2 separate regions of the Homo sapiens genome follow, and region 2 is linked to region 1. A link means that fine-mapping ties the variant in region 1 to the expression of a gene that starts in the linked region. Tissue or cell type: cerebellar hemisphere. Region 1 holds a variant in brackets; the other region holds the start of a gene. All regions are shown on one strand. Distances are between the middles of the regions.

Evidence for each region. PIP is the estimated chance that this variant, and not a neighbour inherited with it, causes the effect.
Region 2: it holds the start of SUPT3H, and the variant in region 1 is fine-mapped to the expression of SUPT3H in cerebellar hemisphere (GTEx, PIP 0.97). The same link has a PIP of 0.9 or more in caudate.

What each region holds. Positions count from the first base shown.
Region 1 is chr6:44,803,259-44,811,367 of GRCh38, forward strand. All of the region lies in intron 2 of LOC101929770 (a long non-coding RNA gene), which reads left to right. It also overlaps a transcript of SUPT3H not described here. Among named protein-coding and RNA genes, the nearest start is that of MIR4642, 370 kb to the left of the region's middle. The variant C/T (reference allele first, on the strand shown) is at 3,602.
Region 2 is chr6:45,372,974-45,381,072 of GRCh38, forward strand. It overlaps SUPT3H (SPT3 homolog, SAGA and STAGA complex component), which reads right to left and starts at 4,961. Exons shown (of 11, transcript NM_003599.4): 1 at 4,795-4,961. All of the region lies in intron 2 of RUNX2 (RUNX family transcription factor 2), which reads left to right. RefSeq lists silencers at 4,603-4,882, 5,203-5,252 and an enhancer at 4,893-5,436.

The DNA of each region.
Region 1 (8,109 bases):
TGTTTCTTTGAAGTTTATAAAAACACAATTGTAACAATGAGTGAAGTATCTCTGTGGAACCTGCTAAAATAATACGCAGCATTGTAAATGTAATAATTTGAAGTCAAAGTCCCCCTTCTTGACTTACAGGTTTACCAAATTAACCTGCGAAATTAACATCCTTCTTGCAAAGACAAAGAAACTTCCAAGAATGGACTGAAATGTCATGTGTCATCTCCAGCATAGCCTCAGCTCTGAGACATGCTGGGACTTCAGTGGAGGCTGCTGGGTGGGACGAAGTAGTCAAAAAATGTATGCTTCTGGAGTTAGGGTAGATAAAGGGAGTGTAGGACGAGCTCTAGTCCAAATTGCTGTCCCGAGTGTGTGATAAACAGAGCTCTGGTGTGGGGTGTCCATGCACAAGTCTGCACTGCTGAGTGGGGCATGGCAGGAGTCTCTGCAGAGGCAGTGGTCAGGAGGCTGGCTCCTGGGGACCTCCCCCAACAAGGTGAAGCTGCATCATAGCCAGAGGATAAAGGGGTAGGAAACAAGAGTGTCCTGGCAGTGGTGGAGGGGGTGACAGGATGGGTCCTTGCATCATTCCAGTGGACTGGGGCAGGGACTGGACTAAGACTGCAGGTTCATGGCCCTGAGTTCCTCTGGAAGTCTGTGGCAATCATGGATGACCAGTGAAGAGCATCTGAGCCACTGGTCATTCTGTGCAAATGGTAGACGTCACTGAGTGATCAGTGGCAGGTAGGTATTTCACAAAGAACTTGTGGAAGAAAGTGGAGCACCAGTGGGTCCATGCCCAGAAATCAGAATACTCGCCACAAAATATCTAGAGCCATCAGGATGGGAGAAGAATGGATGTGGAGGGAGCGGCAGGCTCCCTTGGCTGAGAAGATACCACCTTTGAGGGTGGTGGGGACCAGCACTTCATGTTCCTGTGCTCATCTCGGAAAGTTGTGAATGGATCTTAGAGGACCCAAGACTTCTTTCTGCTCTAAACTTCAGTGATTCCATGATTTTATGCAGATTTAAGACCAGCTAGGCCACCCTCAGGCTGCATTTCCTCCAGTGCAGAACTAAACCAGCCCCTACTTTGGATGGAACACATAGCTCTCTCTCTAGATACGGGTTCTGCAGGTTTCTGGCTGAAAATCGTTCCTCAATTTTCAATCAGCTGTGGCTGATTCTGGAACTCTGAAAGGTTCCAGACTTGCTGTCTAGGATGAAAGACCTTATTCTGTAGCACTTTTTCCATAGAAGCAATGACCTCATTTATATTCACTGCTGACCCAGCCAGCATTTAAGGTGCAGAATCTGCCCCTTCAGTATGGCAAGTCCTGATTCCTCCAGGGCCAGCCCCAGGGCTTCTGCAAGCACACACAGTGACTTTGTACAAACAAGCCAAATGGATCCTCATGAGGCAGAAGAATTACGAAAAAGTGCCTCCTCTAGGTAGGGGAATGATAAAACAACGCTCCCTCTGAGTGGACCTTGCTCCTGGCTGACACAACTCCTGTGCCAGGATGCAAGGCTTGGCAAGTGAAGGCCAAAATGAAAGTTAGTCTCCATCAATGCCTTCCTGGCCTGGTTTCTTTGTGTAGGGCACAGTCTGTAAAACTCTGCCAGGTCCTGTTTGCTGCTGCCTAGAACCAAACAGCCTCACACCTTGCTCTTACAGGGCCTGTGCCCACTTAGGACAAGTGGGATTCAAGTCGAGTGGCCAGGAAGTCTGAAGGGAGTTGAGGAGTAAGAAGGCATGAGGAACAACCTCCTTCATTAGACCTGTGCTCCTGTCCTGACAGACTTCTTTGAACTTCTTGCCACTTGCTGATTAAGTGACTGAGGGGACTCAGGTGAGCTGGAGGACACCCCCGTCTTTCTCCAACAGGTGAAACAAGGTGGTTCTTTTCTGTAAGACAAATGTGGGTAATAAACAGAAAAAAGGCCAGCAAACAGATCAAGTTCCATAAAAACAAAAGCAATCAGTGCACCCTCTATGACGTAGGTTCACAGAAATGACAGACCAAGTGTGTGAGACACGTCCTGTGCAGGGACACGTGTGACCTTCCGAGCTGTGGGGGAAGGTGCAGCTCAGCGCAAACCGTACTCAAGATGAGTTTTATTTCCCTTCTGGTGTATCTCCAGAGCATGCTGGCAAGTGAGTGAGTCCACTGTTTCTTGCTTCTCGGCATCAGTGACATCATCACTTAATAAGTTAGGGAATCACAACCACATTTCAAAGAATCATTCAGTTTTCTCATTAAGATTCTATAGGATTTTTTTTTTCCACAGCAACAGTCTTGCCAAAATAATGTTAAAAATAGACCTGGTAATACTTTTCACATTTGTAGGCAGTCATGAATGTTTAACAGTGTTTATGTCCAGCAGATGCACATAACTTAAGAATTAGGCATGAGATTTTACACAGTAATACAGAGTACATATATTGTCAAAAGGATTTTTTTTTTTAAATAAAGCAAATACCAAGCCTGGGGAAGAAAAACCTGTTCCCACTTCATCTTCTTGTAGGAAAGTGTTTAATGCATAAAAAATTGGGAGGAAAAGGCATATGTAAAATGTTTGTGAAAAAAGTTTTCAACAGTGATTAAATTTGGATATTCTGACTCACTTAAGTGCATATGGTAAATTCTCAAAATTCAAGGGTCTGAATTCTGGCTCCCGAAGTAGAGAATTATTTTGGAGACAGGTAGCGTCCTATGCTTGTCTGAGTCTGCATGGCTTGGGAAAGGGACACATAGGTTTGGGGCGAGCTGAGAGGTGGTTAAGGTCAGAGGTCCCTCTGCTGAGAAAATGCACCGAGTCTGACTGCCTGGAATTTCTCAGTGAGATAAGCTCTACAGGTCACTGGCCTACAGAAAATGAGATGCTACCTTAAAAGAGGTAAATGAAGTAAAATGTAATTATAATGATTTTAAAACAGAAGTTCTACACATTAATAACTTTATTTGGGGGACTGTCCCTAGTGAGTCCCAATTAAATCACTGGCTCCCAAAAAAACTGGCCTAGATGGCCTTTAAAGAATCTTTTTACAGCTGGGCCTACTTGACATTTTGGAAATGTAAACGTGCCTCCATGCATTTGGAGGATGGCTACATGGATGTTTCCTGAGTTCCCAGCTCTCCTTTTTTATTAATAGTTGTAACTGATCAACAGACGATACAGAATTGATGGCTGTATAAATATAGCTCTTAAATATAGTCATCGTAACTTTCTGATTAGCTTTGGCTGGAACTTTTTTAACTTCTAGCCGTACATCTACAAATGGAAGTTTTCTTGCTTTGGGGGTAATCACATAGATGGAGATTAACTCTCTTTTTCTCCCAGGCTCTAAAAATTATTTTGACCAAAATGTTTAAGTCAGGGGTTTCATGTAGACACAGCTTACATGAGTCATTAAGAATTTTATTGGTTAAAGTAGGCATATTTTTTTCCTAGTAGACATAATGACATAACAGTAATAAAAATGTAATATTCAAGTAATTGGTGTAATGTAATTACAGTTTGGTCATAAAGTAAGATTAGAAGTCTGAGATGGCTGTTTTGTGGGTGTGCACTTTAGCGTCTGAATGTAGTCTTCGAGGTGCCTGCC[C/T]GGTCTCCCTGGAATGCTAGTGCAGTTCATCACATAACCAGGTGGCTGGGCGCCCAGCTGAGCCAGCATTATCTGTGAGTCCTGTTTACCCAGTCTGCCCTGTCTGGACGTTGGTGTCCTGCCTGCTTCAGATACCTAACCATCACAGGAACTGAAAACAGTGTTTCTGGTTTTATATAGACAACAAAAGGGGGAAATAAAGGCCAGGGTCCTCACTAGGCAAGGGACAGACGGAGTTCCAGTGCCATCCTAGAATGGCCACCTCTTTGCCCACATGATGTTGTAGCTCCCCATCTCCCTTAAATTGCAGTGCTTGGAGCAGAGAGCTCCCATATGCCTCTGATGTGCTACAGTGTCAGCCTGTTCTGGCTTTTGGAGGGAAGAACAATTTCCAGATTGAGGCTGAACAAAAGGAGCTGTCTTAGGCATTTGACCAAAATATATTTTATCAAAGGATTTGCCATCATTGGAGATACTCTTTCAACTATTATAAATGAATTTCTCCCTGTTTGCATTTCTTATTTAGTGGCATGGCCTGCAGAAACACAAAATTTAAGCAAGAGTACTTATCTATTTTTGAACACAAACATAACATTTTAATTAACAGTACTTACAATAAATAATTTAAAGAACATCTGATTTCTTTTTTACTATTTTTTCCTTTTTAATTAATCAGTAATTTGTGGGGAGACAATCTGAGACTACATAAACCACTTCTTATCAGTCTTCCTCTACCATGGATGATCTTTTAATGCTACTATTCCTTCTTATTTATTAGTTGGCATTCTTCTGCAAAGAAGACTTTTCACTTTCTCCTCTGTTTACTTATTTATACTGCATGGACTCATGAATATTTATTCGATGGGTGACAAACTAGTACTATCATTTATTTTGATGCTCAAATTGTCCCAGATTTGGCCAGTAAGAGCCTCTTCCAGCTCCATTTTTGACCTCTCCCCATGGTTCTTTGACCAGTTCCTTATTTTCTTATGCAATAAAATATTCAAGGCTCATTTTTCCAGGCATCTTTCCCTGCCCTGGTTCTGGGATCAGGCATTTCTCCAAGGAACCCTGAATACCAGTGGGGAATGATATTTAGAAACTAAGATCTGGGCACTAGGTGTGAAAGATCATCACTTTTTAAATGTGTAAAATTTATTTGGAAAAATTTAGGGTGCTTATAAAGAGCTAAGCATGTGCCACAGGTGAAGGCTGCCTTTGGATCCTGAAAGGGTTGGAATTCTAAGAGAAATCACCCCCCGCCCTCACCGGCCCTTGCCAAATAATGTAAATATGTCACGTAGTATGCCAATTACAGTTTCTGCAAATTGATAAGATCTTTAGGCTTTTCTCCTTCTAAGCAAATACTGTTGTCTAAACCTATTTCAAAAGAACATTAGTATCACTCCTAACTGACAGCTCTTGATGTCTGCTAACTCACAGTTCAGTCATTCATCAACGGCGCAGAGTGATTCACAAACTTAATTTCTTGCCAATATCAGTGACTTTAAACATCCATTGTCTCCGAACCCCCCTTTATGAATATAAATCACACACCTACAAAGGCCTGTCATGAATGCAGCGGGCCACATGCAGTATGTCTGTGCCTCATCATTCCTTCTGGCATGTCACCTTAGTAAACAATGTATAGAGTCTCATTCTAACCCTTGAGTCTGTGGTCTTGTTTTCTACAATGGTGGCTGCTGAGCTGAGGCCCCAAGGAAGGTGAGAAGCCAGCCACACTGAGCCAAAGGGCTGGCAACAGTGACTGGAGCAAGGCTGGACATACAGGATTCCCTGTCTTTAACTCCTTTAAGTAAAGTCAAGGGAAAGCAGAGTTTGGTATCCGACTGATGCAGACTGTTGGCTTTTACTTGGCATGTACTTTCTTACTGCTTGAGAAATGTTATTTTTTCCTTAAACTTCTTTCTCATTAATCTTGTGTTAAGAGTGGTCTAACCCTGTTAGTTTGGTAGGCAGCTTCTGTTCCAATTAGCATATATTTCCATAAGTGTTGAGTGGGGAAGGGAAGGAAAACGCAGAATTTCTCAACTATTGACCTTGAGGGACTTGTAGGAAGGTGTGTCTGACATGCTTGTAATACAACTGACTCTGAAAAAGCTCTAGTAAATGGTTAAGTTATGGTTGGCTCTGATGATTTATGCTGAACAGAATAAACTATGATGGAGACATAAAATATTTCTAAGCTTACACTTTAGTCACTCAATATACATGAAACTCAATCTTCTTACTTAAAAAACAGATAGAGCACTGAGAATCTCCTAAGGAAATCAAGTTGTTTATTAGTCTTGTGTTCACCCATGTCATGCATACGAAGATTGAAGAGCTGAAAACGCTTTGATATTCTCCACTGTAAGGCACTGTGTGATACCCCGCTTAAAACTATTCCTACCATTCCACCAAGGGACTTTCCTTTCCACTGACAAGTTGAAGGAGGAATTCAGAGACAGTGCTTCCGTAGCCAAATTGTTTCATTGTTCAAGTATATTGATAGGGTGGTTGCCTAAGCAGAAAATGCAGAATTAAACGAAGGAAGCTTGTTTTGAGAGCAGGTCTGTCACCATCTATGGTACATATGACAAGGAAGTAAACAGGAAGTGCTGAATTGGCTTGGTTTACTCCTACAGGGACAGAGAGAAATAAAATCAGTGTTTACCAAATGGAAAAGCACAAAGTTGGTACAGAGAGAAATGTTATTTTCAGGCTTCTAAAAAGGCATTACAAATAACACAAAGTTTCAAACCTATAATTAAAAACTATTTTTAAAAAGTTTTGATTAGGTTCCCTTCAAAAATAGGCATTTTAGGCTGAAATAAATTCTTAAAGTTTTGACTCCCACTTATGCTGGTTTTTCCATAATCCACACTCCATAAATGCCCCTCTTAAATAACAGATTTCAGGAGTAAAAAATATGTCTTAAAGTCATCTAGTAGAACTTCAATGCTCCCACTTAATAGATGAGGAATCCAAGACCCCAAAGTTAAAGCAATTTCTCAAACACCACACAGCCATTAAGGGCAGGGAGAATTTAGGATCCAAGTTACTCATCAGGCAAGAGTTACGAATAGATATAATTTCTTAGTGCCAGATCCACGGAGGAAACAAACCTTGTGGTGAAGGGGCCAAATGTATTGTTGGTGTAGTTTTTTCCAGAAGCCAAGACTGGGCCTGTGGGTCCAAACCGAGTATACTTCTGTCCTTCAGCAGCTCTGGACAAGAGCTAAATACCATCTAAATGCCTGACTCCAGAATCATGAGAAATAAAAAAAATAATGTTGCCTTAAAGCCACTAACGTTTGGGGTGGGTTTGTTACACAGCAAAAGATAACTGAAACAGAAATAGGCAGGATCACCCCATGAGGCAAGGAAGCACATCAGCTGAGTTGTTTACTAAGGGCAAAGGCGATATGGACTGGCTAACAGAAGACGGAAGTTATAAATACTAGCAAGGACCATTGGACCAGTTACAGAAATGATGACAGTAGTGGTTGTAAGTATTTCTTTCTTACTTTAATATGAATACAGCATTTTTTTGGTATTAATTTTCTTTACTCCCCCACTTCCATTCCCTATCTTTAATAGAAGATGTGTTAATAGTGGCTAGCCATATAGCTCAGTATTTAAGTTACAGGATATTAAAGAGGGAGTGTGACTCAGAGAAAAGAGGAAAAAATATCACCCCAAAATGGATGTGTCATATAGGACTTAATAGCCTTTTACTAAAAAAAAAAAAAAATGCACTTTTGGCGGGGCATGGTGGCTCACGCCTGTAATCCCAGCACTTTGGGAGGCTGAGGCAGGTGGATCACGAGGTCAGGAGATTGAGACCATCCTGGCCAACATGGTGAAACTCCGTCTCCATTAAAAATACAAAAATTAGCCAGGCCTGGTGGCACATGCCTGTAGTCCCAGCTACTTGGGAGGCTGAGGCAAGAGAATCACTTGAACCTGGGAGGCGGAGGCTGCAGTGAGCTGAGATCGTGCCACTGCACTCCAGCCTGGATGACAGAGCGAGAGACTCCATCTCAAAAAAAAAAAAAATTTATATTAGAACAGTTTTACATTTACTGAATTGTGAAGACAGCACAAAGTTCCCATATACCCAACACCTACTTTCCTCTATTATTAGTAATTTACATTATGATACATTTGTCACAATTAATGAACAAATATTGGTATGTTATTTCCTAAAGCCCATACTTGATTCGGATTTCCTTAGTTTTTATCCATTGTCCCGTTTCTGCTCCAGAATTGCATCCAGGATGCCACATTACATTTATGTCATGTCTCCTTAGGCTCCTCTTGGCTATGATAGTTTCTCAGGCTTTCCTTGACAGTTTTGAGGAGTGTGGTCAGGTATTCTGTAATGCCTCTCAAGTGACATTTGTATGATGCTCAAGATTAGAAGGGGTTATGGGTTATTGGGAAGATGACCACAAAGGTATTTATACCCTTTTTGGAGGACAGGGTTAGCATGCATCATGTTA
Region 2 (8,099 bases), 570 kb after region 1:
AATTTTTGTATTTTTAGTAGACAGAGTTTCACCATGTTGGCCAGGCTGGTCTCAAACTCCTGACCTCAGGCGATCCACCTGCCTCGGCCTCCCAAAGTGCTGGGATTACAGTTGTGAGTCACCGCACCCGGCCCAGCTAATTTTTGTTTTAAATTTTTTCTAGAGACCAGGTCTCACTATATTGCCCATCACTCTTAGGCTCAAGCAACCCGGGCCTGTCTTGGCCTCCCAAAGTGCTGGTATTACAGGCATGAAGTCACAGAGCCGGCCACGATTTTCATGTTCATTATCTTATTTAACCTTCACTACCCATTAACTATGGGCCAGGTATTTTCAGAGGGAGAACTACAGTACAAAAAAGCCTCACAGACCAATTCTAGAAAGTAAGAGCCTCATTAGTATAACCTATTAGGTGGGAATATGTTTGGATAAATGAGATACAACGGAAGGAACACATCAAGTGCCCAAGAAAATGTTGGTTCTCCCTTAGCAGTAGTATGGGGTTGTTTTCCGTAGAAAATATATTGTGACCAGATCAAAAAAGCACCATTACTGTGACTTAAAATATTATTTGTGTGTGTGTGTGTGTGGTTTTTGAGACAGAGTATTGCTCTGTCGCCCAGGCTGGAGTGCAGTGCACGATCTCGGCTCACTGCAACCTCCGCCTCCCGGGTTCAAGCGATTCTCCTGCCTCAGCCTCCTGAGTACCTGGGACTACAGGCATGCACCACCATGCCCGGCTAATTTTTTTGTAATTTTAGTAGAGACGGGGTTTCGCCATGTTGGCCAGTCTGGTCTCCAACTCCTGACATCAAGTGATCCACCCATCTCAGCCTCCCAAAGTGCTGGGATTACAGGTGTGAGCCACCACACCCAGCCTGTGACTTACAATATTATTTGTAAAAGAGAACTGTCTTCAGTAATAGTGCCTATTATACACTATCCATGCTGTTACACAAAATTTACACAACAATTTTTGCAGGTCACTCTTTAGTGGAGGCTGAAGGTAGACAAGATGAGACAAAACCAATTCAATATAAAAATGTTTGTAAAGTAAGACGATAATTTTTAAATGTAATTCTCATTTGATGCCACCAACAGTCCTATGAGAAAGCGGGATGAGGATGGGTACTAATTCCATTTTACTGATAAGGAAATTGAGGCTCTGATATTAATAAGTTAAATACCTTAACTGAAATGACAAAAGAATGTGCCAGAAAAGGGCAAAAGCTAGGTTTACAGAATTGGGTCTTAGTGCTCTGTTCACCAACCCACATAACATCTCAGAACATTATTATCACTTCTAGATTATCCAATAAACTTAAGGCTACAGCAGCTAACAGTTACTGAACTGCACACAACCCATCACATGAGTTATTTAAATTAACCTCTTATGAACCTAGAAGCAGATGCCATTACCATCTTCATTTTATAAATGAGGAACCCAGTATTCTTAGGAAGATTAAATAATTTGTCCCAAATCACATGGTTAGGAAGCAGCAGAGCGAGAACTCAAATCAAGTGTTAGAGCCTCAATAAAATATTTTACCCACTTCAGTATAAACTTAATATAATAATGCATATGGCTGAATTATTTTTCATTAAGTAAACTGTAAGCAAAACCCTTCTTTAACATTCTAATACATAATCAGATTTCTGACGGATTTCACTATTCAACCTCACCATAAAATAAAATCAGTGTTATTTCAACACAAATACTCAATCACCTGATTTGACTGACATAGACTACCATGCAGTCACCCCCACCAAAAGATGATTTTCTTCCAGAGGGAACCAAAACTCAAGCTGCTAAAGGTTTATATTCAAAGCAAAATTTTAAAATTATCAGTGGCTTAAATGGGAAAGTCACTTGCTGGCCTTATTCCAGGTATCTTATTTATTATTTAGACACAAAAACAGTAATTTTGTCACTGTTTTAAAGTATATTTCTGGCCGGGCACGGTGGCTCACACCTGTAATCCCAGAACTTTGGGAGGCTGAGGCGGGTGGAGCACTTGAGATCAAGAGTTCAAAACCAGCCTGGCCAACATAGTGAAACTCTGTCTCTACAAAAAATACAAAAATTAGCCAGGCATGCTGGCATGTGCCTGTAATCCCAGCTACTCGGGAGGCTGAGGCAGGAGAATCGCTTGAACCCAGGAGGGGGAGGTTGCAGTGAGCTGAGATCGCACCATTGTACTCCAATCTGGGCAACAAGAGTGAAACTCCATCTCAAAAATAATAAAGTATTTCTGATATTGCAATGTGGTTAATCATCCTAAAACTATATATTACAAGTCCCAACAAGGCTAACAGTAGGGTGACATTATGATGTGGTCCCAATTCGAACATTTTGATAGTGAAAGGGGTTCTATTAAATAAAATAATTGTGCTGGAACAATCAGGCTTTATACTACGACTGTCTCAGAAAAATTAAGATACTATAGTCACCCATAAAAGCACCCCATTCTGATTTGTATATTATGAGCTATTCTCTCCATCTGATTTAACTCGTGAGCTTTAAGTTATTGCTCCAGATCTAACAATTATCTTCAGCCTTAAGACCAAGAGCATCATTTTTTTTTTTAAAGAGACAAGGTCTCCCTCTGCAGCCCAGGCTGGAAGCCTGGCCTGACCATGATTCACTGCAGCCTTGAACTCCTAGGTTCAAGAGATCCTCTGGCCTCAGCCTCCCAAAGTGCTGGGATTACAAGCATGAGCCAACGTGCCTGGCCCAAGGGCACCATTTTACAGACATCAGGCCAAGGTTAAGGGTGCTACCGCTACCTATAAAGGTTTTTTATTTGTTCTTTTAGTTTTATTTTCAAATTTGACTTTATATACACTTGCTTTAAAAAAAAAAAACAGATGCACATATTTCAAGTAAAGTAATTTTGTGAAACATCTATTACCTAATTTCACTTATCTCTCCAAAAGATTTGGATAACCATAAAACTAGTTCTAAAATGTCCTAATGCTCAAGAGTTACAATTTTTCAAATCGCTTTATTACACAAAAGGTTAAAAAAGAAAAAAACTTGAATAAGAGCTGGAAACTTCTCACTGAAAAACCAACCAAAGTGGTAAAAGATAGCAGAAACCGACAATCACAAAATAGTACAATAATGTTTAAAGAAAACTCCAGTTAATACTGTCATAGCTCTCTGAATCTGGCATTAGCTGTACAACCTAGGAGACAACGTTTTGCTTTAATTTGTCAAGATGTAAATAAGTACTAACAGACCCATGGTCTGAACTGCAGTATTTGAATGAAAGGCATTATTTGAATATAATTACAATTCCCTATGGCAATAAATGTTCCAAAGAGCTGGCTTATCTGATTTAAAACTCAACCATATCAAGACTCGGAAGGACTCTCAAAATCTAAATTGTAGCCCTGTGCTGTCCAATGCAGTAGCTACCACTAGCCACATGTGGGTATTTAAACGTAAATCAATTTATTAATTTATGAATAAAATTAAAAATTAAGTTCCTCAGTGACACTTATCACATTTCAAGTGCTGAAGAGCCACTGTGCCTAGGCTACCACTAGTGCCTAAAGGCACAGATTATGGAACATCTCCATCAAGGCAGAAACTGCTAGTGAAAAGTGCAGCCCTAGACTTAGGCATACTTCGCTCCAACGTCCCGAATATCCTGAGATAAGAAACTTTCCATAGCACAATGAAGAGCATTCCATTCTTGCAAAGTACTCTCACGAACTGTTTCTCATAGGCAAATTCAGCCTCTTTGAAACATTCACCAGAAATTCCCCAAGTTTTGTCCTTCAAGTAAATCTTTGCAGGGCGAATTTAATTCCTCTTCCAGAGTCTGCCCTTCACATATACTAAGACCCCAGGTCCTCTCCTTCCAAATACATACATACATATATACACATACATATACTTATATACACACATATGTATATACATATATATACACACACATTTCTTTCTACCGAAATAACTTAACATTTCTATTAGCCTCTTGGAGAAATGCTAATTTATCCACGTGTACAGTAATACTACGTCCAGGATCGTCTGAGTGTCAAATATTACATATCACTGTCTTCATAACTTCACTCTCACGTGTGAGACCAAGTGTCCTGATTCTCTGAGAAAATAAGGTCACAGTCATTCTGAACTCCTAAAACGTGGAGAGCAAAAGCAGAGCTAATATGTACTGAGCAGCACCTGGCGCTGTTCTAAGCGTTTAACGTGTATTTTCTCATATAATCCTCACAATTCTGAAATAGGCTATAAGATCGCCATTTTACAGACCAAAACAAGGCAAAGACAAGCTAAATAATTTCCCCAGGGGTCACAGACGTGAGCTCACCCCACAGAGAACACAGCGGATCTTTTCCTCTTTCTGGATGCTACACTCCCACTAACTACCTAACTCTTCTCTCGCCGTGCCATAAAGCAACAATTTCCCTCTTTAATGATTCCTCCGGCAGCCCCCACACTACCTAGACGACCCGCGCACCCCGCTTCTCAGCACAGCCCAGCCCCCCTCACCCCACGCCCACCCGCCAAAAGGGAGGAGTCGAGAGGCAACTCCACGCTCGGCAGCGGAACCAGGGCGCTGCGCCCGGCCAGCGCCTCCCACAGCCGCCCTCCCTTCAACACTCCGGCGTAGACCACGAAGACCCAGGCAGCCGCCCTCGAGCCGGGGCCAGGGCGTGGCCGGCGCGGGGGCCCAGCGACGCTGGGATCTCCGCTCTGCGTCCCTCCCGGCTCTCTGACGTCTCCCCCGCCCGAATCCCCGCACCGCCCCCCGCAAGCCCTACAACCTCTGCTTTAAGAACCCTTGGAGGCACTGCTGCGCTTCCCGCGAGGAGAATGTGGGGGTGGAGATGGTGCGGTTTCTGCTGCTGCGGCCCGGGACACGCTTGGAAAGGGGCGGGGTGGGGGACTGAGAGTGTGGAGTGTAGAAAGGGAAAAGGTGACTCGGCTGTGTGACGGGGCGATGGGGGGGGTACAAGATGGCGTGAGCCCGACTCTCGGTGGGGCGGGGGTTGCGGAGACTGAGGAGTAAGCGATACGGACGCCCCCCGCACTGGCAGTGCGGGCGCATGCGCGCTTGGCCAGGTGGCGCGCGCTCTCCCAGCCCGAGCGAGCTACTTCCGCCACGCTCGCCGGGGGCGGGGCGTTGTGCGCGGCCTTCAGGGCCCGGCTTGGGCAGCGCTGAGCCACGCGGCGGCGTTTAGAGCTGGGGACGCTGGGAGCGGAGTGGGGACGAGCTGAGATCGGTCAGGGTGTACAGGGTGCAGGCTTGAATTCTTTAGGAATTGGGCCCGAGAGGGCTAGGATTTTTGAAGGATTGGGTGACCGGCACTGGAAGTTGATTTTCAACTCCGAGGAAGAGATTCACCGTTCTAAGCTTCTTTCCAGGAATTGGAGTGAACGGGATCTTAATGGGATTGCGCGTTTACAATGGTGAAGGGAAACGGAGGGGTCTGAACGCTCCCCGCAGGGCCGCAGTACAGGCGTGTGGATGTGGAACCCTTTCTGGGACGGCGAAACCAGCTCTTACGCCGCTTCCGCGCGCCATCACTCCCTACCCTGACCTCGCACAGAATCTGTTTCATTAATCTGCTATTAATGTTTTTTCCCCAACTCATGTTACTAGACGCAGGCGTTTAACTACCATGTTTTGTTATTGAAAACTTTTTCTACTTGAAGGCTTTTTTTTTTTTTTGGACGATTCTGTGTTTAGATTTTGGCCTGTTCCTCATTTTAAAATCTTGCACCCCCAGTATTGTACTGTACATTCTGTCCTGCCACATTTAATTGATATAGATGTAGTTCTTTAAATAATACAGTAGTCGTAAGACAATGCTTTCAGTCTTTCACTCTTTATATTATATGAAGTCTTATTTATATTTAACATTCTTATTGCCTGCTTAGAGAAGAAAACTGGTTATCCATGCTCACCTTCACACCTGTGTTGTCAAATACTATAAAATACTGTATTTTATAGGGATTCAAGTATTAACCCTCACCAAGTCTTTTTAAGCATCACTGCTTCAGTTATTTTCTTGCCTATAGATACTGTGAGTTCTGAAATCCCTTCCTTCTATTTGCTTAAATTGTTTAAAATAGCAACTTATTTGGTTATTTCCTCTGTGGATTGTAGTTGAGTCTGCTAGTGTTGTGTTTGATTCTCTTTAATCTCCCCAACGCTTCAATATTTGCCAAATACCTAAAATTCCAAAAGAATAGATATATTTAGGATGTGAGAGCTCAGCTTGATGTGTAAATCAGGGATCAATTCATTGCTGAGCAAAGTGTGCAGTATAAGGGAAAGTAACAGAGTGAGTATGGTGATAACTTCTTACATGGGAAGACTGGTTGAAAGCTCTTTTGAGTACATTACCAAGAAATTAGTTAACAGAAGATTAAGAGAAAAATTAATGTTCACATCTAAAGAAACATAAAAGTAGATCATTTCAATTAAAATTATGTTCAGTTAATGTTATCATAGAAGTTCCTGCACTGGAGTTTCACCTGCATCAGATGAGTACCTGTTTGATCCAGTTTATCAGGATAGAATCCAGATCATCTTATTCTAGGATACTGGTGTCCAGCCTGCATAAAATCACACACAGGCCAGGCGCGGTGGCTCACGCCTGTAATCCCAGCACTTTGGGAGGCCGAGACGGGCAGATCACAAGGTCAGGAGATCGAAACCATCCTGGCCAACATGATGAAACCCCGTCTCTACTAAAAATACAAAAAAGTATCCGGGCGTGGTGGCACGTGCCTGTAGTCCCAGCTACTCGGGAGGCTGAGGCAGGAGAATCGCTTGAACCTGGGAGGCGGAGGTTGCAGGGAGCCGAGATCACGCCGCTGCTCTCCAGCCTGGCAACAGAACTAGACTCCGTCAAAAAAAGAAAAAAAAAAATCACGCACAACAAAAGTTAATGAGAGTGACACATGGAGAAGGGAAACTGAGTTAAGGCATTGATACAGGAAGTTTAAAAATTTATTCTTAGGAAACTGAATTGGGCTGTTGGCAGAGATCTGATTTTTAAAGTCACATGAGTTAACCAGGTTCCTACCTCCTGGAATTTCTTAAAATCCATTTTTGAAAATCTGATTTAGCCATAATTTTGCTCATAGTTTGAGACCATTGCTATATACAAAGGGCCAAAAATATTTTTGCATTACATTCATATCAAATATCCTAAACTATCAATGGTACTAGGGTATCTTAATTATAACAAAGCTAAAACAGCGAAGCTGTTGCTGAAGTTAAGGCTTTGATGACTACCACCTCTCAGAAAAACAAGTGATTTTCCAAGGCATGTGGGGAAAACACATCAGGAGACCAAGTTAATTTATCACTCCACAAAAATGTCTCCATGACCTGGACAAAATTGTTAAAGAAAAATGAAGCATTGTTAGCGTAGACTTTAACGTTCCTCTGGCATGTAATATTCACGTAGACTCACTAGTGCAAAGAGAAAGTGCATGTATCTAAGTAAAAGTGCCCATGGGCATCTTAAAATGATTAGGTAGTAAGCCCACATTCTCAAAAGAGCAGCAGAAGTCATGGCTAATATGGAACCATCTCTCTGATTCCATGGAAGTGGTTTCTTTTTATTATTATTTTTTGAGACAGAGTCTCGCTCTGTCACCCAGGCTGGAGTGCAGTGGCCCGATCTCGGCTCACTGCAACTTCCTCTTCCCCAATTCAAGCGATTCTTCTGCCTCAGCCTCCTGAGTAGCTGGGATTACAGGCGTGTGCCACCACGCCCGGGTAATTTTTGTATTTTTAATAGAGACGGGGTTTCACCATGTTGGTCAGGCTGGTCTCAAACTCCTGACCTTGTGATCTGCCTGCCTCGGCCTCCCAAAGTGCTGGGATTACAGGTGTCAGCCACCGCACCCGGCCAGAAGTGGTTTCTTCTCATGTGGATGCTACAGTGACAGTTCAGGTGACTTGGAAATTCTTTGTTGTTTGAGATTCATAACTCTTACTTGCTAGGATGTTTGTGGGGACTTTTTATTTTCTATTTATCAATTATTTCATCCTTTGCTATATTTGCCTTCTATTTTTAATGCTTAAGTTGTCACCATGGAAATAAACTGG